2 separate regions of the Homo sapiens genome follow, and region 1 is linked to region 2. Evidence: fine-mapped QTL for protein levels in blood plasma. Region 2 holds a variant in brackets. A gene starts in the other region. All regions are shown on their reverse strands.

Region 1 (15,137 bases), not on the chromosome of region 2:
AAGAACTTCCCAAATCGCTATTCCCAGGCACCACCAGAAATGTGGTGCTTTTCTCTGCCTCCAAAAAAAACAAAAAAGCAAATCTGGGAATTTACCTCATAATGAAAACCAATAGACTGGATTTAAAATGCATCTTCAGGCACTGTGGCTTATGCCTGTAATCCCAGCACTTTGGGAGGCTGAGGTGGGTGGATCACCTGAGGTCAGGTGTTCAAGACCCAATTGGGCAACTTGGTGAAACCCTGTTTCTACTAAAAATACAAAAAATTACCTGGGTATGGTGGTGGGCACCTATAGTCCCAGCTACTCGGGAGGCTGAAGCAGGAGAATCGCTTGAACCCAGGAGGCAGAGGTTGCAGTGAGCCAAGATCGTGCCACTGCACTCCAGCCTGGGAGACAGAGTGAGACTCCGCCTCAAAATAAATAAATAAATGAATACATTAATTAATTAATTAAAATGCATCTTTAAAATCTTCCCTTTTTGCAATACTACATGGGACATCCCAAATTCAAAGTATGAATGAATGCATCAACCACCAAATACACTGAAAATGGGCACACTCAGCAAGACACAGAGGCCCGTAAATGTTACCAATAGTTACTAGAAACTAACTTTGACAAGCTGATATTTCAGGGCCTTGGCCCTTCAGCATATTGACTTGGAAAATTAACCTGGAGCCCCTACAGGACTGAGCCCAGTGCCTGGTGTCAGCCCAGCCACCTATCAGGGACCAGGCAGACTGTGACAACCATGACACAGTTCCCTTTTCGTCGCACTATGGGAGCATGTGGTTGAGGGAAATGGGGAAGCCAAGGTCTAAGGGCTTCCCAAGCCACTGCAAGTATAAACTAGAGACACTCTTTGAGAACCCCAAATTTAAAATCATTTAGCTGGAAGTTGTTCACATTTCATAAAATCTGTATTTCACCCCAGGACCTTTTAAACCTCCCTAGGCATTTAAAGTGGGGATTATACAGCGTTTATGAAACAGTGTGCCCCAAAGAAAGATGCGTACACAGGATTATGCAGTGTGACTGTCATTATGTGAAAGTTTCTGTGCACGGGCACAGGCTGGACTGGTTCTGGGAAGGATGGAAAGTTCCATGTGCCCCTTTTTCTCTTCAGTGATGCTGTACTGTCTTCAGAATGGTATCATTTGTTTGGTTCTTTGCTTATTTTTGCTTGTTTGTTTGTTTTTTTGTTTGTGAAATGGGAGTTGAAATGGCCTCAAACAGACCTAGGCACCAAATCCAATTTTCCAGTCAAATTAATTATGAGTTCCTGATGCAGCATTCAAGGCTCTCCGCAATACCCTCTTGCTGCCCACACTCCCTGTGTATACTCTACCTCCCATCAAACCAGCCAGTCCCTGACTCATCACATGTGTTCTGACCTCAGGCTGGACCTCAGCTGCCCTGTCCCTGCGGGTCACCTTCACTCACCCCTCTCTACCTGAGCAGTCTTCCTCATCCTTCAAGGTCTATTTCCACTACCTGCTTCATGAAAGCATTCCCAATCCCCAACCTGGATGGGACTGCCTTACAGCCCCCCATCTGGAATCCTCGCATCCGTAACTCATTTGAAGTATTCTCTCAGCCTGCTGGCAAGGGCCTCTCTGGCCTGCAGACATCCTGCCGAGCCTCTGGCCCGCAGCCCCCGCAGCCCTGCAACCCCGGCACAGAGCAGGCACTCAGCAAGGGCTCAACTTGGTGTTTATAGAGGATTTTGCTTACCAGAATAAAATAAACCCCCCATTTCAGGCCAAGGATGGCAACTTGGATAATCATGTTTTTCATCCCAATCCAAATGGATTTCCACATGTGTTAGTGGCTTTTTTTCCTCCACAGGATAAACAAATTTAGTCTCTTTGTGATAGCTCAAATACATGTTTAAAGAACTGCCCCCAAATGTTTCATCTTCAAAGACAAAAACTCAGGAAAAACTTGTACAATACTTCTGTTAGTCCAGCTGAAACAGTAGCTACAAGAACATTAATTCTCCGGCCTCTGCCTTCTTCCTTGGACACTGGACCGTCAGCCACGACACCAGGAGCAAACCCGCCCTGCTTTCCGTGGTTCTGAGCCTCTTGAATTCGGGCCTCCGCCAACACACAGCAGGACATCTAGCCTTACACAGGGGCCCGTTCTCAGAGTCCCCATACCACACTTTCCCTCCTGCCCTCTCTCTCTAGCATCCACATCTGGTTTCCCTTCAGCACAAGTTTCACAATGGACAGATTTTGCACTTCCAGGATTTATGGTTCCTGCTGCCCCTCCTTGCTTTTGATATGATTCCATTATGTGCTTAAAATCTGGGCCGCACTCTTGGCTCTGGGGAGCTGTTTATGACAATTCTTTTATGGCCTTAAATCGCTCACCGTTAAGAACCTGATCATGTTCAGAGGCAATGACTAGTTGCTAAGAAAGAAAATTGCAACATGTCTCAGATGGTTGCTTGAAAAGTTTTCTTCATAGAAGATTCATGAAGGCTAGTATTTACCTGGCAGGTAAATCCTCTGAGGAACACCTTGGACCCTGTTCTCCTCCATCAGCTGCCAGAGACTGATTAAAAGCAAATTAGTCACAATCTTCTCACCCCAGACCCAATCACTTCCTCCCTTCTGCTGTGCTAGAGACCACACTGACAGAATTGGTAAAAATAAAAACACCAATATCACAAACACTCCCTCTTGACAGCAAACGAGACTGAGAACATTTTTTCTTTTCCATCTGTGCATTACATTTTTTCAGAAGGCAAAGAATTTCAGGAATAAGAAGACAAAAACTTTTATGAAAGACAGGGCATGGTGGCTCACACCTGTAGTTCCAGAATTTTGGGAAGCTTAGATGGGCAGATTGCTTGAGCTCAGAAATTCAAGACACGCCAGGGCAACATAGTGAGATCCCCGTCTCTACAAGAAAATTTAAAAACTAGCCAAGGGTAGTGGCATGTGCCTGTAGTCCCAGCTGCTTGGGAGGCTGAGGTGGGAGGATCACTTGCGCCTGGGAGGCAGAGGTTGCAATGAGCTGAGATCACACCACTGCACTCCAACCTGAGTGACAGAACAAGACCCTGTCTCAAAAAAACAAAACAAAACAAAAAAAATACAATGCCCTGACCTTTGGGCAAGAACTTCCCTGAACCAAGGTTTCTCTTGCCTCCCATCTCCCTCTCTGCCATCCTTCTTTCGTCCAGCAGCCAGACAGATCTTCTCATAAGGCAAAACCGAATCACACAACCCTGCTTGAAATTCTCCAATGGCTTCTTATAATCCAGGTGATGAAGCCCAAACTCCTCAGCTGCCCAGGACCCTGCACAATTTGGTGCTGATCTACATATTCAGCCTAATCACCCTTCCCTCCCCTGCCCAGATCCCTGCCCTACACACACAGGGCTCCGTTAGCATCCTACAGTTTCCTTGACCTTCCCCATCCCATAGCAGTTGTTTAAGCTGTTGTCTCTGCCTGAACCATCCTCCTCAATGCCTGCTTCCCTATCAGAGCACGAATGCCCACTGTGCCCTATGAGAGCTTAGCAGTGTGCCTAGCCTTTCTCTCCCCACATTCCGCCCATGGCAGACCCAGAAGGCTCCATGTCTGTGTCTGAGATCACTGCAGAAGACTCCTTGGACCACCACATTACCACCCTCTGGTACTGGATGTAGGGTTGCCAGTTAAAATACAGGCCACAAGTTAAATTTGAATTTCAGTATAAACAATGAATAATTTTGAGTATAAGTATGCCGTAAATATTGCATGGGCATTTTGTATTTTTTGTTTGTTAAAGTTGACAATCCTAGCTGGTTGAGAACTCTGGGATGCCCTCCAGGGAGAAGAACTGAGGACCAGGTGGCAGCAGCATGCAGACAGGAAGGTAGTGGGTGACACCTGGGCAAAAGGTAGGGAGCGTCCCCCCACCCTCCTCCTGGGAGGCAGCGTATGGCCGTGCAGAGCAGGACTCCAGAGTCAGATTGCTTGGGTTTGAATCTCAGCTCTGCCACTTGGTAGTTATTTTGGGCAACATACTTAACCTTCTCCTCAGTTTCCTCATCTGTAAAATGGGGATAACCTACTTTGTGTGGTTATGAAAATTAAATAAATTAATATTTGTATAGCACTTAGAACAGTCCTTGAGACATAGTAAGCATTCTATAAGCATTTCATAAATATAAAGCAAAAGAAATTAGCCAAGCCAACCCACAGATAAGGGGAGTGAGTCTACGAGATTTAATAATCATAAAACAAGAATGAACATTTATGGAACACTTACTATGTGACAAGATACTGTGCAACATGTTTGTTCTATATCAGCTCATTTAATCCTTATCACAGCCTGATTATTTATTATTATTATTATTATTATCTTCTTTTTACAGATGAGGAAGCAGAAGCACAGAGTGATAGACTAGTACTCTAGACCAGGAAGTCTGACTCTGTAACACACTAGACTGTGATAAACTGTGATCCACATTAATTCATTCATCCTGCATTCGTTCATCCTGCATTCAATCATTTCTTCATTGAGCACCTACTGTGTGCCCGGCCCTGTGCTCAAGCTGGGGAACTAGAATTAATAAGAAAGACACAGAGCAACCTCAGAGGATCATGGACCTGAAAGAAGACCTCATAGGAGCCTTTACAAGTGTGAGGAGTGGCACTGGAGACAACAAGGTCTACGAGCCACGCGGACAGCAGGTGCCTCTCCTACCCTGGGGCTAGGACGGGAGTCAGGCAGATGTGTGCAGTCAAGGAGGGCTTCCCTGTAAAATGACATCTTCGCAGTTTCAGGAAGGCAAACGAAAGCAAACAGCCTAGCCAAGGAGACAGGACTTGGCGGTGCCTGCACAGAGGCCTAGGACTCTGCTGCAAACATGGAACAGGGCTGGTGAGAGAGGCAGGAGGTGGGGCAGAGCAGAATGAGGACAAGTGAGGCCGGATGGAGGGGCTGCTTGTTCCCCTGTGCCAAGCAGTGGGGGACAGCTCTAAAGATGGGCCTAGACCCTCACCATGGGACTCACCCAAGCCACCAACAACTCTACCTGCCTCTCTGCAGTGCCACCTGCACAGCACAGGTGCTCATCGCCCATCGCCAGCGTCTGCTCAGTGAGGCTGAAGGCTGCCCAAGCCCTCGCTGAATCAACTGCTCCTGAGTTGCTGTTATAACAAGAACATTCTGAAAAACTGGAAAGCAAGGAGAGAAGCTTTACAACAACAATGCCCAACATTTCGCCACTCAAAGAGAATGACGTTTGTAACTCTGTCTTGCCATCCTTTGTACAGAGGTTACTGTTTTGCATACTTATAATCACAGTGTTTACACAACCTTGTGTTTTTTCTACTTACTGCATAAGCATTTACTCCACAAATTTAGAGCTTTCATTGTTTTCTTAATCCCCCATTGTTGGGCATTTAGTTTAAATCTTTATTTTTAACAAGGACTAGCTTTGCATGTGGTATTTCTCCATTATGAGAATTTTAAACAGATTTCTGAAGTGGTTAATAAGATGAAATGGTTTACTTCAAACAGTCTGGATACCATACTATAAATATAACTTCCCCAAATTTTGTACCAATTGATAGTCCCATGAGTGATGCTTAAGTGATGCTTCCTCACTTTACCATTATCAGCTTTGGATGTTGCTATTTAAAATAAACATTTCCTCATTGAGTGGGACCAAAACCAAAATGCCGTGATCCTGCAGCACTGCTGTGCTTTTCCTTCATTGCCAAAGAGGATGCATGTTCTTTGATGAATTGGTTAATTGCCTTTCTTTTTCTCCTGAATTGTCCTTTGATGTCCTTTGCTCATTTATATGTTAGGGCCCTCTTCGGAAATATCTTTGCATGTGTTCTTAATATAATAAAGATGCTTGCCTGTAAGGGAGTGTTGTTGGATGAATAGATGGTGGAATAAATGCTACTTGTTGGTTTGTCATATTTGCTGCAAGCATTTTCTCCCATGTTTAGGGGAATCTTGCAGTGCCCCCTGTGACCCATCTGAGTAACAGAGCCCCCCTACATACACTCTGCCTCGGGGCTGCTTTAAGCCTAATTCAATACTGCCTGGCTGTCCCCCACATCATTTTCTCTGGGCTTAAGTTACTCAGGATCTCTAAATATTTGCAGTGTGAAGAACAAAACCAGAGGTTGTTCTTGGGAACCTTGGTCCTTCAACTTCCTTCACCCCAGAGCATGGCCAGGGAAGGGGTCAGCATGCAGGGCTGTAGCTGAAAGAAAGCTGCACAGAGGAGGCAGCTGGCTGCCCAGACTCCACAGGCTGCAGGTGAACAGACAGAGGGAGGAGCTGGAGAGGGAGAGGCACCCGCCAGGCTTGGATTCAGAGCCAGCAGCCACACAACACAATGGAAGCAGGTATTTTGGGGTGACCCACCATGTCATGAGTGGTGATGGGGCCAGACAGGTTACTGGAGCCCAGGATCTTGCTCTGGCCTAAGTAGCTAGGTACAGGACACAGAGACAGGAGGCTGGCTAACATTAATGCACAGGGAGATCTTGTATGCAGTCAACCCCATTGCTGGGCCTCAGTTTCCTCATATGTACAATGAAGGCCAGTTGTGGCCTCAGCCTCTACCAGTGCTGAATTCTAGGATTCCTGTCCTGCCAGGGAAGTAAAAAGGACTCCTCTTCTGAAAAGAAGGTCAGTCACGAAAAGAACTAAAAGAATGGGGGAAGGAATTGCCCTGGATCCCAGCTCCCAGGGCAGAAAACCAGCCTTGACCAGTCAAGACCCCTTTCTAAGCAGACCAAGGAGGTAGTGCCCAGACACCTGTGGGATTTCCTGGAAAGTCACACTCCTGTTATCACCACCTCCTCTTCCCAGAGACTTCATCTCTAAAACAAATGCCCTGAGGATGAACTGGCTTCCCTGGGAATATGGACTCCCCATGGCCACCCCTACACACACGCAAACACACACACACACACACGCACACACACTTTCTCACATGCAACCTTGTAGCCTGTGCAGCCTGGATTCAGCAGTACTCTCACATGCTGAGCTGTTGCCTGAAACATGTTTTTATTTACTCCACAGATAGGGAGTGAACCCCTGCTACATGCCAATCACTGTTGTAGATACTGAGGATGAGCAAGACAGACACCCACAGACACAGACAGATCATCCACAATGCACCCCCAAATAAATATGAAAATGTACAATTTGAGGTTGCTGCACATACAATGAATAAACTAAAATCGGTGGCAACACAGAGAGGGACTGTTGTTGGGGGTATGCTCGTGGGATTAGAACTGGATGGTGAATATTGGAGCCCAGGCTCACTGAGGAGAAGAGGGTTGCCTGTCAGCCCCTGGGGAGGAGCACTGCAGGTGGAGGGGCCAGTGAGCACAAAGACCCTGAGGTGGGAACAGGCTTGGATGTTTGAAGGTAAGACAAGGCAGAGTATCTGGAGCACAGCCTGTGGGGAGCATGGCAGGTGCTGGTCATGATTGGGTGCGCACTGCTGGGGACTTGGCTTCCACTCTGCATGAGATCGGGAGCCAGTAAAGGGTTCAGAGCAGGGACTTCCCCCAGGAGATCACTGTGTGAGCAGCAGGGACCATGAAGGGCCAGGAGTGGCCTCCCTCCTGTGGTCACTGGTTAATTCCTTTCCATCCTTCATATCTAACTCAATGGCCCTTTCCTCCAGGAATTTGTCCCCACCTCGTCACCCTGTCAGATCCCCTGATGAGTCTCCTAGCACCAACCACCCTCCAGGACACTGACCTCTGCAGGAGTTTCACACTGATCTCTGTGGTTTATAGCTAATGTCTGCCTTCCCCACTAGACTCTGAGCTGCTTGGGGACAGGCACACAGCTGCCTTGGCTCACCTCAAACCCCCAGCACCTCGTACAACGCCTGGGACACAGTGGGTGCTCAATAAATGTAAAGAGAAGAAATAAGCAAATCCCTGGGGTCTCAGCAAAATTTCCACTCCCTCAAGGAGTGATGTCCTGTTTCCACTTCCTCCCTCCTCTGTGCCCCCACACTTCACGTCTACCTCTTCTGTAGAATCCAGTATGACCATGAATGTGTTGACATCTGCACACATGCATACACACACACAGGCAAGGCATGTGTGCTGTCCTTCACTGTACCCCAGGGACCTCCTTGAAGCAGACAGTGCCACTGTACAAAGAACGGCCTCACACATGCCCACCTGCTCAGAGGCCCTCGGCTTGGGCTCACTAGACAGTCTGTGCCCTGAAGGTGTGTCAGGGGCCAAGCCCCCTCCCTCACCCAGTTAGGCAGCATCCCCCACAGACCTGCTGGCAGCAGGGGCCTCATGCTCTCCTGTACCATGGCTCCAGAAGAACTCACACAAACAAGGGCTCAGCTCTGCTTGCACAGTGGCTGCCTTCTGCAAACCAGAGATCTGCATACACAGACTGAGGAGTGTAACTGAGGACAAAACACTGGGACGTCTGACCTCTGGTCCAGCCCAAGAAGCTGGGGAACGTTGGTCCATATTTCTAGAGCCAACTACTTTTTCCTGTGAAAACTCAGTGCCCACGATCGCTGGTGTTGTTAGATCCCAGTTAATCAATCAACATATTCTTGAAACAAACATGTTAGAAATAAAATCGTTAATAAAAAATAATACTTTACATGCTCTAGGAAAGCTTGGTATTTAAGAAATTCCTTTGCAGCATAAAATATATTTTTTTGGAAAGCAATTGGCAATTTCTATGAAAAGTCTTAAAATGGGCATGTGCCATGGCCCCATGATTCTATTTCTGAGGGCTGATCCAATGTATTAAAACCTACCCCAAAATGGAGCTACAAGAATATTTGTCAAACAGCATTGGTTGTAAGAGGGTAAGGTTGAAAACAATCCAAATGTCCAGCAAGGAGTAGTCAAATTAATTCTGGTACATCTGTATGACGGAATACTCTGCAGCTAAAATCATGATAACCGCAATGGTCAGCACATATCAAACACTTACTCTGTGTTGGGGACCACATTAAAAGCATTACATGCACTATCTCATTTAATTCTGCCTATGCTGTACATATTATTATCATCTCCATCTCACAGATGAGGAAACCAATACCAAATAGAGTTAAGGTATTTGCCCAAAGTCACACAGCTAGTCCCTAGGATGCATACTCAGGCAATTTGACTCCAGACACCAGCCTCTTAGCCATTATACTACCCGGCCTCAGATGAAACCATTAAGGGAGCTATTGTTGTAGCAAGGCTAGCCACATGGAGCGATGTTCACAATATGCTAATAGGTATAGCAAGCAGGTTATTAAAGACTACATGCAGCCTGATCCCATGTGTACATGTGCACACAAAGCAAAAAGAGGATGCTTTGGGAAGATTTCACCCAAGATTTTACTTGCGTGAAAATGTTAGTTTTCTTCTGCTTGGGTTTTCTGATTTTTCTGGGCAAACGTGTTGTTTCTATATTTTAAAAAATTATTTTTAGAGTTAAAAACTAACATAAATGCCAAAAGTCACTCCCTCATACTCATCTCATGCATAAATGCAAATGTCCAGCTATTGGCTTTGCTTTAGGTATAGGCACAACAGCACGCATAGGCGCTGCTTGCTTTTCATGGCTCAGCTTCTTCTTGAAGCAGCAAGGGCTCTCCAGTTGGGAAGAGACGACACAGATTCTTCCCATTGCACCCTTCAGCAGACTGTCCCCATCATCCAGAAGCCCTCTGGGCATTTTTGCCTCCAGGGAACTGCCAGGCTGATGGCATAGAGCTGGGTGAGCTCTCTCCTGACAGCCAAGCCCAGGGACTCCAAGAGCTTGAGATGATCCACCTCCTGTCTCTGGGTCTCTCAAGGCAGCAAGAAGTGAAGGGCAGACAGGCCTCAAAGCAACAGAGTGGTCCAGGGACAGGAGTCCCAGTTCTGCAGCCGTATATACTGAGGACCCTCCTGGCCTAGTCACCTGCTTCCTAGCTCTGTGACCTTGGACAAGTTATTTCTTCTCTCAGAGCATGTTTCCACACCTGTCAAATAAAGAAATTAAAAGTACCAACTTGGAAGAAAAGTACCAATTGGTAAGAATCAAAGTAATAGATAAATTAGACATAAAACGATGGTGCCAATAAGTAACATTTCCTGGGTACTGACAACATGTATGATTTCTATAGTTCTCACAGCCACCCTATCAGAAACACTGTGATGATCTGCACTTTACAGATGATGAAACAAAAGCTGAGAGCGGTAAAGTCACTTGTGCTGGAAAGTAGTGAGGAGGGAATTTCTGCCACTATGGCTGGGCTCACACCACTATACCTCGCATTCTGGCACAATGTCTAGAACATGGGAAGGCCTTCATCCAGATGGTTACCACTGTCATCGCTCTCCACTAGGGCTCTCTACCTGGCTTTGGAGAGTAGTGTGAGAGTGAGGACTCCTCCTGGTTCTCCCCACCACCCAGACACTCACACAGCCACCAGGCCACTGACCCACTTTAAGGAGCTTTCCTTTGGGAGTCACCAAAACTCCTCCCCAATACCCGTCCCCACCCCCGCATACACACACATACCCTCTTTGAGTCAGTTCCAGTGATCACAGTCAATGACTTTGCTGCTGGACAGTCTATGACAAGCCCCTGTCCAGAACTGGCCTTGTGTTCTGGCCCAGCAGGGGCCCTTGGGGGTCAGGCCTGCAGGCACTCACACTTGGCACCTGCTCCAAAACCCTTTCAGGTCTTTGAGGATCTGAGCCCTGGGCCTGGGTCTCCCGCCGGCTCGGAAAAGCTGGCCTGCCGGGCCAGAGAGAGAACCACACGATTCAGAAAAGCAGTGCCCTTCAGCAGCCTCTCCACCGTCTGGGCTCCCCAAAGGCAGAGCGGGACGCTGGAAATGTGTGCGCGCTGTGGTATGGGTGTGCAAGTGTGCGAAGGCGGCGTGTTGTGTGAGCGAGAGGGTAGCGGATGTGTGTGTGCGTGTGCGCGCGTGGCTCCGGGTGTGCGCCGCTGCGATAGCGGGTCCTTTCCCGGGGCGGGCGACGGGCGGGCTGGGAAGGTCTCCTCCCCTCACCACATTGAGAAATCTCAGTGAGTCACCGAGTGGTTCTGCATATTAATGAGCTCGCTCGCTGCGAGGGCAGGAGCGGATTTAAAAGAGGCCAGGGCGGGCGGAGGGAGGCTGTGGAGAGAGCGCGGAGACAAGCGCAGAGCGCAGCGCACGGCCACAGACAGCCCTGGGCATCCACCGACGGCGCAGCCGGAGCCAGCAGAGCCGGAAGGCGCGCCCCGGGCAGAGAAAGCCGAGCAGAGCTGGGTGGCGTCTCCGGGCCGCCGCTCCGACGGGCCAGCGCCCTCCCCATGTCCCTGCTCCCACGCCGCGCCCCTCCGGTCAGCATGAGGCTCCTGGCGGCCGCGCTGCTCCTGCTGCTGCTGGCGCTGTACACCGCGCGTGTGGACGGTGAGTGCGGGGAGCTCCCCTTGTCGCCGTCTCGTCTTGTCCTGTCCTGGGGAACCCAAGCGCCAATTTCTAGGCATCCTGGGATCCCGCGGGGGGTGGTCTGGGTGGGCACCAAGGTGGTCGAGGGGCAGGAGACCGCCTAGCAACTAAGCCGTTGCCCCGCGCTCGCTCGCAGGGTCCAAATGCAAGTGCTCCCGGAAGGGACCCAAGATCCGCTACAGCGACGTGAAGAAGCTGGAAATGAAGCCAAAGTACCCGCACTGCGAGGAGAAGATGGTTATGTGAGTTCTCGCTCCTCACCTTGAGGGGGTGCGCACTGCTGTCAACCCAATGCCAGGGCACAGCCTGGGCCTGGGTCGGGCTAACAAACATTTCTCTCCGACTTTGTCAAGGCCCTGGAAAAGCCTTTGTAATTGCCCAGAGAGTCCTTAGGACGCTGGCGAGACACTCTGGAAGACAGTCGGGAAGGGGGGTCACTGTCCCGCTCCGGAACAGCGCCTCCAAGTTCACCCTTGCTAGGATTCAAATGAGCAGTCTCCCTATTTGTACCATGGGCCACCCACTCTGCTAGGGCCATCAAGGGTTAAAGGGTTCCCTTGTGCCAACTCAGAAAACCTAGACTGAAATCACTTAAAACACACTCACACCCAAACTGTGAGGCGTGCTGCCTTCCTGTCACTGGATAGAGGACTAATGCAAACACTATCTTAAATCCTGAGTCTCCTTCAGAGCCTTGTTCCAGTCAGAGACAAGTGGACCGCAAGTTTTTGGCTCCTAGAGATTTTATTTTGAGAACGCTCCACGAGCTTCCCTCACCGACTGTACTCCTTGTGGGTCCCCAATACGGAGCAGTACTGCAGAAAGTGCTCTGCTGGGGTTAATGTGCCACATGGCTGGAGCCCTGCTTGGTGGGGATGTGGGGAATGTTGGAAAAACTGGGGCAGAGTGAGAGAACACTTAGTTTCTTGCTCCTCCGCCTTCCCAATTAACCACTTGAGGCCAGCACCGCTGCCTCCTCATCAATATGCTCTTGGCCAGGAAGGGAGCCCTTGGCAAAGCGGCTACCAAATATTTGCCACAGACCATTGGCCCCTCTTCCCCTCCCCCAGAAACAGGACGCACTTTATTCTCAGTCTGGGCAAGTGCCCTCCACCAGCTGGCCCCCACCGGCGCAAAGGCCTTCACAGTGTCTGCGAAAGCAGTGCACACCCCTACCCAGCACCCCCCATCCCCGTCTAGGGGCTACACTGTCAGGCTGAAATTAGGGGAATTCAGAAATCCACTGGAACTGAGCTGACCCCACTGCCTTCCTTCACAGACACCTAAATTAACTTGCTTGTCCCTACCCCTTGCCTTGCAGACCAAATTCAAAGAAAATACCCAAAAATCCTTTTGGGTGGGGGCCAAGTGTCAAATGAGCTGGGAAAGGAGCTCCAAGCTCCTCAGGGCTTCCAGTTTGGGGGCTAAGAATGACAGGGGAATTCCAAGTTAAATCTCACTCGTCTAAGAGCTGAAAACCACTCTATTAACCAAACAAGTTTCTGAGACCTTGCAGGGGAAGAAAGCAGGGTAAAGGATGCAGTGATACCTAAAAAGGACAGAGCCCTCAGTAAATAGGCTTGCTCTTTTCCTGGCTAAACTTTTCCACATATAGAGAAAAACTATAGCTAGGCAAGTGTGAGAAAGGCTTTACGGAGCCTTGTAGAAACGTGCAGGGGCCTCAGGAGATCAGCACACAATCCAATCACCCTCTACTAAACCTCTAACCCACCCCCTAGGGCCTCCCACTCCATCCCTGAGGGCTGGGGGCTCCTCTCCCCCTCCACAATCCTAAAACTCTCCAAATCAGATGAGGGGCCAGCACTTTTGCAAAGCAGGTTTTCAGCCACAAAGGCTGAACAAAAGCAAATTTTCCAGCTTACCCTGAGTCACCCAGAAATCTCTGCTGAGGCTGGGGGTGGGGGCAGGAGTAGGGGCGGGGGGAGAGGTCCGCTTTGCAAGTGGGAGTCCTTGCACCCAGAAGGATCCAGGAGAGTCCGAATTCTAGAAAGAGCAATTTGTGTCATAGGTCCATGGAGCTCTCACCAAAACCCTTACCCCCACCGCCAGAACTGTGGAGGAGAGGGTCACAGGACTCAGAATTTCTGATAGTTGCTGGAGTCACAAATCCCTATGTCTGCACTCCACAACCGATTTTCATAATCCCAGTATTATGACGTGGCATTTGAGCACTGTAGTGAGAGGGCTGAGTGACCCTTCCTGCTCTCCCTTCCTGCTCTCCCTGACCTTCAGGATTTGGGATGCACAGCCTGCACACTGACCTAACTGAGAAAGGGTTTTTATCAGGCATTACCACGTCCTTTCCTTCAGAATGCTAAAGCAGCCTTGTAGGCAGAAAGAGAAAAGCATTTGCTAAATTCCTGCAGGGTGACTGGGCACAGTGGGGGAGAGAGACAACCAGAGTTCACTCTGAAGCCTGGCCTGTGCTCAAGGCTAGAGGAATGACCCGGAGTCACAGAGGAGTCCAGTCAAGGCAGGCACCATCACCTGGCATCAGCAGGAAGACCCGCCCCTGCCCCAAGGAGCTTAGGCCCTAGCAGGGACCCCAGAAACCCAGAGCACGGAGAAGGGAAGAGAACAGGTTGCCTAGGAACATTATGCCCCCATTCTGGTGGCAAGATCCGATTTTCTTTCCCCATCAACTGGGAGACTGAAGTAATGGGAATCCTGTCCCTTCTAGAACTTAGCCCATATAAGCCATGACATTTTCCATTTGGTTAACAGTGGGGAACTAGCTGACCTCTGTCCCTCTCTTCTCACTCTTTCCACTCTCACTTCCAGTCTCCCCCTTTGCCCTCCAAGCCCATTCCAGCACCCCAGTCTACCATCATGGCTTGCATGGCTGTGACCCCTCAAGAAGTGGCATCCTCACCTCTCACCTTGCACTTTTCCAAATACCCTAGGTGGTCTCTTATTCCCCACAACTCCTGTCATGCCTGTGGCCTAGAGGTGCTCAGAAGTTCTGAGCAGCAGGCTTGCCTCGCCCTCCAGGCTGGAGCCCCCACAGCAAGGCTACTCTTTCCCCTTGGCCACTTCATCTTCCATGACCAATGACTAGTAACAGTAACTGTTAATTGTGCATCTACCAGGTCCTGGGTACTTTCTAAAGATTGTATCTTTTAATCATCCCAATAACCCTGTGAGATAGTCCTATTATTATACCCATTTTACAGATGGCCAAACTGGATTCAGAGAGGTTACCCAAGGTCCCACAGCCAAATTTGAGATTCAGTCCCAGGCCCTTACAGTCTGCACAACACCTGCTTCTCTACCACATGGCTAGGCTTCTGCTGGGTGTTGGGACATTGGCTGATAGAGGCCTGAGATCTTCAGGCTGTGCAGAAGAGAGGTCTTACTCTTCTGCTTAGGGGTGAGATACCTGGGACCTCCCACAAGGCCAACAAGACTTTGCCTCAGGATCAGGAGATGCCCAGCCCTGGGACAATCTGTGGTGGGTCAGAGGGAACTGGGGTTGAGGAGACAGAAATCAGAGTGTCTGCGGGGCATGTCTGAGCCTTGCCATGAGCTCCTCAAATCCAAGGACAGAGGTTTTGGCATGTGCACCTTGCTGGCATTAGCTTTCTCCACCTCCTGATCCCAGGCTCAGAGAGGCTGGGAGTCCTCTGACCTTTGTTCCCCAAAAGAGGCCTGAGCCCTGGAGAC
Region 2 (8,000 bases):
GATATGAAAACTACATGCAATGTGAGAGCCTGGAAGAAAAAAGACATGAGTAGGAAAACTGGTGAAATTAAAATAATGCCTGTAGATTAGTTAATAACATGAATTTCCTGGTTTCCATGATTGTACAATGGCTATGGAAGATGTTAACATTAGGGAACCTGGGTGAAGGGCATTTTTTCTGTAAGTAAAAATTCCACTTTTGCAATTTTTTTCTGTAAGTAAAAATTTATCTCAAAAAAATTTTTAATGTATGTTCACAAAGGAACATTAGGAAACAGTAGCAGAAAAATTTCAACCGTAATCCTGCAATTAAAAACAACTGCTGGCCAGGCTTGGTGGCTCACGCCTGTAATCCCAGCACTTTGGGAGTCCCAGGTGGGCAGATCATGAGGTCAGGAGATCGAGACCATCCTGGCCCACATGGTGAAACCCCGCCTCTACTAAAAATTCAAAAATTAGCTGGGCGTGGTGGCACATGCCTGTAGTCCCAGCTACTCCGGAGGCTGAGGCAGGAGAATCTCTTGAACCTGGGAGGCGGAGGTTGCAGTGAGCCGAGATCTCACAACTGCACTCCAGCCTGGCGACAAAGCGAGACTCCGTCTCAAAAAAAAAAAAAAAACGAAAACAACAACAACAAAAAAAACCTGCTTATGCAGATATTGATTTGGCAAAAGAAAAAAACTTGTCAATATGCTGATTCTTTTAGTTATTAATAATGCAAGGAAAGTGTTCTGAGCACTGACTAAGCTCAAAGCACCTCTCTTTGAGCACTCCAATCTTATGTAAAATTGCCATCCTCCTACTCCAGATACCCCTCCTCCATCCCTACTGTAAGAATTAAGGAAAGAGGAAAGAAACATGAAAGCTGGCTTGGCAGTCAAGGACAGGTTTATTTTAGAGAGGGGCAGCTGTCTGAGTTAGGTCAGAGGCACACACTTACAGACTAAGAGTTTTTAAGGATTCAGGGTGGGAGAGTTTAACAGAGGCTTGGACTGCTTCTGTGTCTTTTTGTTGTGCCTATCTGGAAGGGAGAGTTTCTGTGTCTGTTCCCATACATCTTTCTGCAGCCTCAGGCATACTCCCCAAGTCTGCTTTTAGCTTTCCTATCTTAGTGCACCTGAAGGGAAAAGAATGTGCTTATTAAGGCTCACTGTTTTACTGGGGCCCATTTTATGAGGGTGAAGTTTGGCAGTTGCCAGAGAAACTTTCCGAACACCTCCCTCTCTGCCCGAGCTGTCTTATCTGTGTTTTATCTGTGTTTTATCTGTGTTTTACTGTCTACTCTTTCTGGCTGTTTGTAGTGAGAAGAGAAATGATTTCCTTGAAATGCATGAGGCTAGAAAGGGAGCTGGAACTTAAAGTGGTGGTGTTTGTCCGAGATGACGGTGCTCCTGCCCTGTCACCTACTGCCTCTCTCCCCATTGCAGTGTCACCACCTATCACATGATGTCATTTACTAGTATGTCTTTTGCTGATTGTCTGTCTCTTTCTGCTTAAGCGGAAGCCCTGTGAAAGTAGAGGTTTCTGTTTGGCTTACTGAGTCCAAGGGCTTGGATTAGGTCTGGGATGGAAGATGAACAAGAGGCCAATTCATGGACTTTGAATTCCTGTAAAACAGCCTGAAATGATGGGAAAAGGAGAGGCTCTATCCGACGTCACCAGAGTCCTTGAGCGTTGGAGTATTTCTTTCAACTGAAGCCTGGACCAGGGCTATCCAGATATACAGAGAGGGAGGCGGTTCTGCCTATTGGAGGAACTACTGTTTCCGAAAGTGCAATGTTTAACAAAGGCAGTGGTCTACCCCGGGGGGTTGAGACCTCTGAACCCTGACGTGGCCATAAAGCCAACTGCTATAGGACTGGCAACCCAGAATAAGAAGAGTGAAGGAAGCCAACAGAGATCCCTGGAGGTTGTGTTAGTTTGCTTCGGCTTTGTATTAGGTACTTTGTGGCTTACACAACAGACATTTTATTGTCTAACAGTTCCAGTGGCAGAAATCAAAGGGCCCAACAGGGTTGATTCCTTCTGAGGGCTGTGAGGGAGAATCTGCTCCATCCCTCTCTCCTAGCTTCCAGTGTTTTCTGGTAATCTTTGCCATTCCTTGGCTTGTAGAAGCTTCACCCTGATCTCTGCCTTCATCTTTGTATGGCCTTCTCCCAGTGTGCCTGCCTGTCTCCAAATTTCCCATTTTTGTAATGACATCTGTCATCTTGGATTAGGGCCCATCCTAGCTGCCCTAGTGATCTCCTCTTAACTAATTATATCTGCAATGACCCTATTTTTAAATAAGATCACATTCTAAGGTACCGGGACTCCAACACAGGAACTGAGAGCAGGAAGGAGGACCACAGTCCAACCCCTTACACAGTCGAGCACTGGAGGTAAATGGTATTCTCGAGAGGAAAGCTGTTTGATGGCTCTTGGGATAGATTAGGTTATGCTCCAGCAACTGCCCATCTCAATTATCATCAGCTTAATACAACAAAAGTCTATTTCTCACTCACACTAAGACCCCTGTGAGCTGCAGGACTTTCTAGGACAACTGTCTTCCGTGCCATGATTCTTACACCCCAGATTGCTTTCATCTTCTGGTTCTACCAGTGGGGCAGGGAAGGGCTGGGGAGTTGCATCTCATAGTCCCCTTGCTGGAGAAACCTGGAAGTGACCCTTCATACCAGTGCTCATGTTTTACCAGTCAGCAGCAGGGCCCTAGGTCTCCATCCCTGCAAGGGGCTCTAGAGTGTAGGGAACAGATGGAATGTTCACAAGCACCACAGCCCCTGCCACAGTGACTTTTTTAGGACTGGTATCGCAGAGTGTTTACTTAAGGCGGTGGAAGCTAAATTCTTAGCATGTGCTGGAGAGCAATGAAAAAGATATTTACTTTATGAATTAAAGCTGGAGTCAGTGTCAGCCCGAAGGCTGAAGGAAAAAGAGCAACAGATCCAGGGAGCATTCACCTGCCCTGTCTCCAAACAGGTGAGGATGGGGAATAAAGTGAAGGCAGTGCTTTGGTGGGAACTTCAAGGATAGCCTCTGGCTTTTTCCAGGTTTAGAAGCTCATATGAGACAGGGGTGGAGGAAAAGAAGAAAGAAGAATAAGAAGAGAAAGTTGAGGCCCTGGCCCAAGTTAGTGGGAAGGGAAATCCACCCCCATTAAACTCTCTCCCTGGTGGACTGTGGGGTGCACACGTGAGGCCTGCACAGGTGCTGGAACATGGTAGAGGCCCAGGACATACTTCCTGTGAATGAATGATTGAGCGGCTGAATGAATGAGTACCACTAAAAGCCCTCTTTTCTATTCCCAAATGCCACATTGAGCAGAAGGGAGCAATCCTTGCTCAGCAATTGGTAGTCCCTTTGGGTGTGCAAATGAGTCCACAGCCTGCAACAGCAGACAGTCTCTGCCCCCCTTAGAGGCGATTGCAGGGAGGTGGCTGACCGTTGATCACACCCAGAGCTGGTTATGGGAATTTACTCCATGGAAAGACTGCAAAACTGCCTGAAATGTGTTTTGGCATCAGCTACTGACACGTAAGGTTTCCCAATCCTCAACTCTGTCCTGCCAGCTGATGAGGGGAAGGAAAGGGATTACCTAGGGGTATGGGCGACCAATCCTGAGTCCACCAACTGACCACGCCCATCCCCAGCCTTGTGCCTCACCTACCCCCAACCTCCCAGAGGGAGCAGCTATTTAAGGGGAGCAGGAGTGCAGAACAAACAAGACGGCCTGGGGATACAACTCTGGAGTCCTCTGAGAGGTAAAGAGCCAGCGAAGCTGATGTCCTGTCAAGAGCAGAATTCCTGCTCATTCGCTGCCTTTGAGAGTGGCTGTGTTGTGCATGCATGTGCATGATTTGATATGTATGAGAGGGTGTGTGTGCATGAGTGTGTTGAGTGAGTATGTGAGTGTAGTGTAAGAGAGGATGTTGGCACTATCAGGTAAGTACGAGAGTGTGTGTATGTGGGCATAGGTGTGTTAACATGTATGTGTTTGGGAACTTGTGTATGTGGAAGGGGTTAGAAGGCCTAGAAGAGAGAGGTTGATGCTTTCATTCTGGAGGAAAATACTGAGGCCGAGCCTCCATGGGTGCCTTGGAGACTCCAAGCCTTGAATCCAGTGTGGGGATATGCAAGCTATGTCTAGCGAGGGACACATCCTCTGACCTCAGGAACCTCCCAGGTAGTTGGGAGGAACCTGGTTCCAACCTCCCAAGAACTCTCAGTCTGATGAGGTACAGGGGAGGTCTCATTAGTGTATCATGGGGTTCTCCACAGGTCTGAGGGCCTGATGTGTGTGAAACCATTCTGCAGAGCTGGGAACGGGTCAGGAGGTGGTTGTGTGTGTGTGTGTGTGTGTGTGTGTGCATTGCTGGAGGGCACTCCTTGTGTGCTCTGAGTGTGACAGAGGAAGTCACCCTGGACTTAGGTTGGATGGGAGAGCATGTCTGTGTGTCTCAGAGCCACCAAGGAGGAGCAGGGGAGCGACGGCCGGGGCAGAAGTTGAGACCACCCAGCAGAGGAGCTAGGCCAGTCCATCTGCATTTGTCACCCAAGAACTCTTACCATGAAGACCCTCCTACTGTTGGCAGTGATCATGATCTTTGGTAAGAGCTGACCCTGACCTCTGAGCATGGGGGGACAGCCCCAGAAGGGAAGCACTCTTGTCCCTTAGTTTTCTCTCCCATTGCAGTGATCCTCTCTCAGGGGGAAAAAAGAAGCCATTTGGGAGGAAGGAGAGTAGCAGAGAGGGGCAGAGAGGGAGGGCGCAGAACCCCATGCCCCATCACCAGACAACTCCCAAATTTCCTTCCAGGCCTACTGCAGGCCCATGGGAATTTGGTGAATTTCCACAGAATGATCAAGTTGACGACAGGAAAGGAAGCCGCACTCAGTTATGGCTTCTA[C/T]GGCTGCCACTGTGGCGTGGGTGGCAGAGGATCCCCCAAGGATGCAACGGATCGGTGAGGCCACCTATCCCTCCCTACCCTCCTAGACTCTGGCCCAGGCAGGGCTGGGAGCTGCAAAGACAGTGCCGGTTCCTGATGGGCGCAGAGGTCTCAGGATGGCCTGGCTGGAAAAGCAGCCGGCATGTTGGAACTTCTGCTCTAGACTGTTGCAAAGTCACTGGGTCTCTGCCCAGGGTCCAAGGGGGTGAGACCACAGGCACCAGGCCTCCTGGAGCTGTGGGACAAGAGCCCCAACAGGGTGTCTCCTCACAGCTGCTGTGTCACTCATGACTGTTGCTACAAACGTCTGGAGAAACGTGGATGTGGCACCAAATTTCTGAGCTACAAGTTTAGCAACTCGGGGAGCAGAATCACCTGTGGTAAGAGTCCTACCTCACCATCGAGTGGCCCTCATTTGTTTAGACAGTGCTGGGGACTGTGCTGGGCACCAAAGATAGACACAGAGGGACACAGTTCCTGCTTCAGGAAGCTCACGGTTGAGTGGGAAGCCAGGAAAGTGAAAATCCAATGTAGTAAAGACTCCAGTGGGAAGTAAACAAACAGATAAGGCATTAACACAGCCTGAGGCTTGAGGAAGGCTCCTGGAAGGGGTGACCCCTAAGCTGAGTCTGAAAGGCTGTGCAGAGAGTCAGGGAAGAGGAGGGAGCATTCCCAGAAGAGGACACAGCATGGTCAAAGGCACTAAAGGGCACTGTAAGCCATTCTGTACTGCCCAGCAGAAACATGAGGAAGAGGAGCAGTGCTGAGCCATGATGCTGGAGACATAGGAAGGAGCTAGGTCAATCCGGCCCTCCAGGCCGGGCTGTATTTAGGTTTTGCCCTAAAGCAATAGGATGCTATTAAGCAAAGGAGCTACAGGGTCAGATTTGCATTTTAGATGACTCACTGTGGGGACAGGGTCGATGGAGACAAGTGGAAGGGGGGCAGAGAAAGCTATTGCCATCATGCAGGCAAGAGGGAGTAACATCTTGACATAAAACAATGGAGGTCAGGATGGGAAAGGTGGAGAAAAAATCAAGATGCATTTGAGATGGAATCAGCTGAACTGGTGACTGAGTTGGGAGGGATGGGGAGAGGGAGTTGTTGGATGGATATGTGGCTGCATGGATGGCACAACTGTGATAAAGACCATGGGAGCAGGTCATGGTGGAGGGTGGGGAGGAGCAGTTCTATTTCCAGCATGTTGAGTTTAGGGGCCTCCAGCACCCAGGGAGGGGTCCAGCAGGCAGCTGTCTATACAAATGCAGCTCAGGGGAGAATTCAGGACTGGGACACAGATTCAGAAGCCAGCAGCAGAGACCTGAGAGGTGGGTGTGATCACTCATTTGCTGTTTAAAGGCCCAGAAAGGAGACAGAGAAGGGATGGACAGAGAGGGAGAAGGGGAACTGAGCGAGAAGGTCAAGGAGTCAGTAAGGAAATGGTTAGCAAGGGCCAAGTGAACAGGGAGTCCTCCATGAAAAGGGCCAACAAGGCTCCCCTGGATGTTGAGGCAGAAACGCATGAGGGACTCAGGGGAAGCTGTTTCCATGGAGTCGGGAGGGCAAAGCCAGATTAGACCAGGTGGGGGCTGATGGGAAGGCAAATAAAGACAGGAGGCAAAGACAACATTCTGGAGAAAGTTTGGCCCTGAAGGGGAGGAGAGGTGGGTGGCACTGGAAGGCTTTGCTTGGTGTCCCCAGACAGCTGACTCATGAGTGGGATTTGGAAAAAGCGTGGACTCCTGCCCATGGCCTGAGTCCTTTAAGATCAGAAATTATGTCTCCCATCATGGCCTCTCCATAGAGGCATGTATCTTCAGCAGGCGTTAGGTCACAAGCCACATGATGCCAAGCTGACAGTGGCTTGCATAATGGGGATATGTGACTGTCGCATAACTAGAATTCTGGAAGAGTGCAGTGCCAGGCTTGGGGCAGCTTTCCAGCCATGTCATTAAGAATCCAGCCTTCTCCTGGCCTTCAGCTATGCCACGTGGCCAGTGTCTACACCTGGGATGTCAAGAGACAGGCTGCAGGTCCACCCTCCTGGCCTCATACTATGGAAGAGGCTTTCCTTTTGGGCATCTCTCTTTTTGGAGGGAGGAAATAGATCGTTCCCAGAAGCCCCCAGCAGACTTCCCCTTGTTGCTCATTGGTTGGAACAAGGTTACATGATACACAAAGACCAATCACTGCAAAGGAAAAAGGGATGACCCTGCCTGGCTTACACCAATCACAATCTATTCCCAGACCCCCGAGGCTAGGGCTTTGCCTCCTGGACACATCTGTTAGCAAGAGGAAGAGATTATGGCTGTTAGGAAGGCCTTTGAGAAAGTATCCCAGTGCCTGGCTGTGTCTCCACCAGGCTGGAGGCCAGCATCCCAAGGGCAAGAATTCTGTCTCCCCATTGGTCAGAAATATCTGGAGCGCAGGTGTTTGTCTCCAACTAGGAGCTTCTGGAGGACAGGGCTGTGTCTTCTACCCCAGGGTTCCCACAAGAAGCCACTGAATATTAATAAACTCCCATCTTGTGTTTATTTTCTTATGATTTCAGCAAAACAGGACTCCTGCAGAAGTCAACTGTGTGAGTGTGATAAGGCTGCTGCCACCTGTTTTGCTAGAAACAAGACGACCTACAATAAAAAGTACCAGTACTATTCCAATAAACACTGCAGAGGGAGCACCCCTCGTTGCTGAGTCCCCTCTTCCCTGGAAACCTTCCACCCAGTGCTGAATTTCCCTCTCTCATACCCTCCCTCCCTACCCTAACCAAGTTCCTTGGCCATGCAGAAAGCATCCCTCACCCATCCTAGAGGCCAGGCAGGAGCCCTTCTATACCCACCCAGAATGAGACATCCAGCAGATTTCCAGCCTTCTACTGCTCTCCTCCACCTCAACTCCGTGCTTAACCAAAGAAGCTGTACTCCGGGGGGTCTCTTCTGAATAAAGCAATTAGCAAATCATGTATATGTGTGTGTGTATGCATTGCCCTATGCACTGTTAGCATGAGAACAAACAGGGGTAGGGGTTAAAAATACAGGCTCTGAGTCTGGTGTA

Direction of the effects. Positions count from the first base shown, and alleles are read on the strand shown. Strength reflects both the effect of a copy and how common the allele is.
For the plasma level of the protein whose gene starts at base 11,138 in region 1, allele T in region 2 goes with a lower level than allele C (weak association).

What was found. A credible set is the group of variants that fine-mapping cannot tell apart. PIP is the chance, under the fine-mapping model, that this variant and not a neighbour inherited with it causes the effect. The UK Biobank Pharma Proteomics Project read protein levels with antibody pairs (Olink). The fine-mapping took linkage between variants from a reference panel, not from the people measured, so its PIPs are less certain.
Region 1: CXCL14 starts here. The variant in region 2 is the best candidate, but not a certain one, in a credible set for the plasma level of the CXCL14 protein (UK Biobank, PIP 0.61).

What each region holds. Positions count from the first base shown.
Region 1 is chr5:135,574,992-135,590,128 of GRCh38, reverse strand. It overlaps CXCL14 (C-X-C motif chemokine ligand 14), which reads left to right and starts at 11,138. Exons shown (of 4, transcript NM_004887.5): 1 at 11,138-11,414; 2 at 11,590-11,695. The coding sequence starts at 11,351. It also overlaps a transcript of SLC25A48 not described here. RefSeq lists an enhancer at 4,885-5,386.
Region 2 is chr1:19,975,341-19,983,340 of GRCh38, reverse strand. It overlaps PLA2G2A (phospholipase A2 group IIA), which reads left to right and starts at 3,723. Exons shown (of 5, transcript NM_001395463.1): 1 at 3,723-3,761; 2 at 4,462-4,607; 3 at 4,817-4,961; 4 at 5,220-5,326; 5 at 7,498-7,906. The coding sequence starts at 4,568. The coding sequence ends at 7,640. RefSeq lists an enhancer at 4,580-5,079. The variant C/T (reference allele first, on the strand shown) is at 4,908.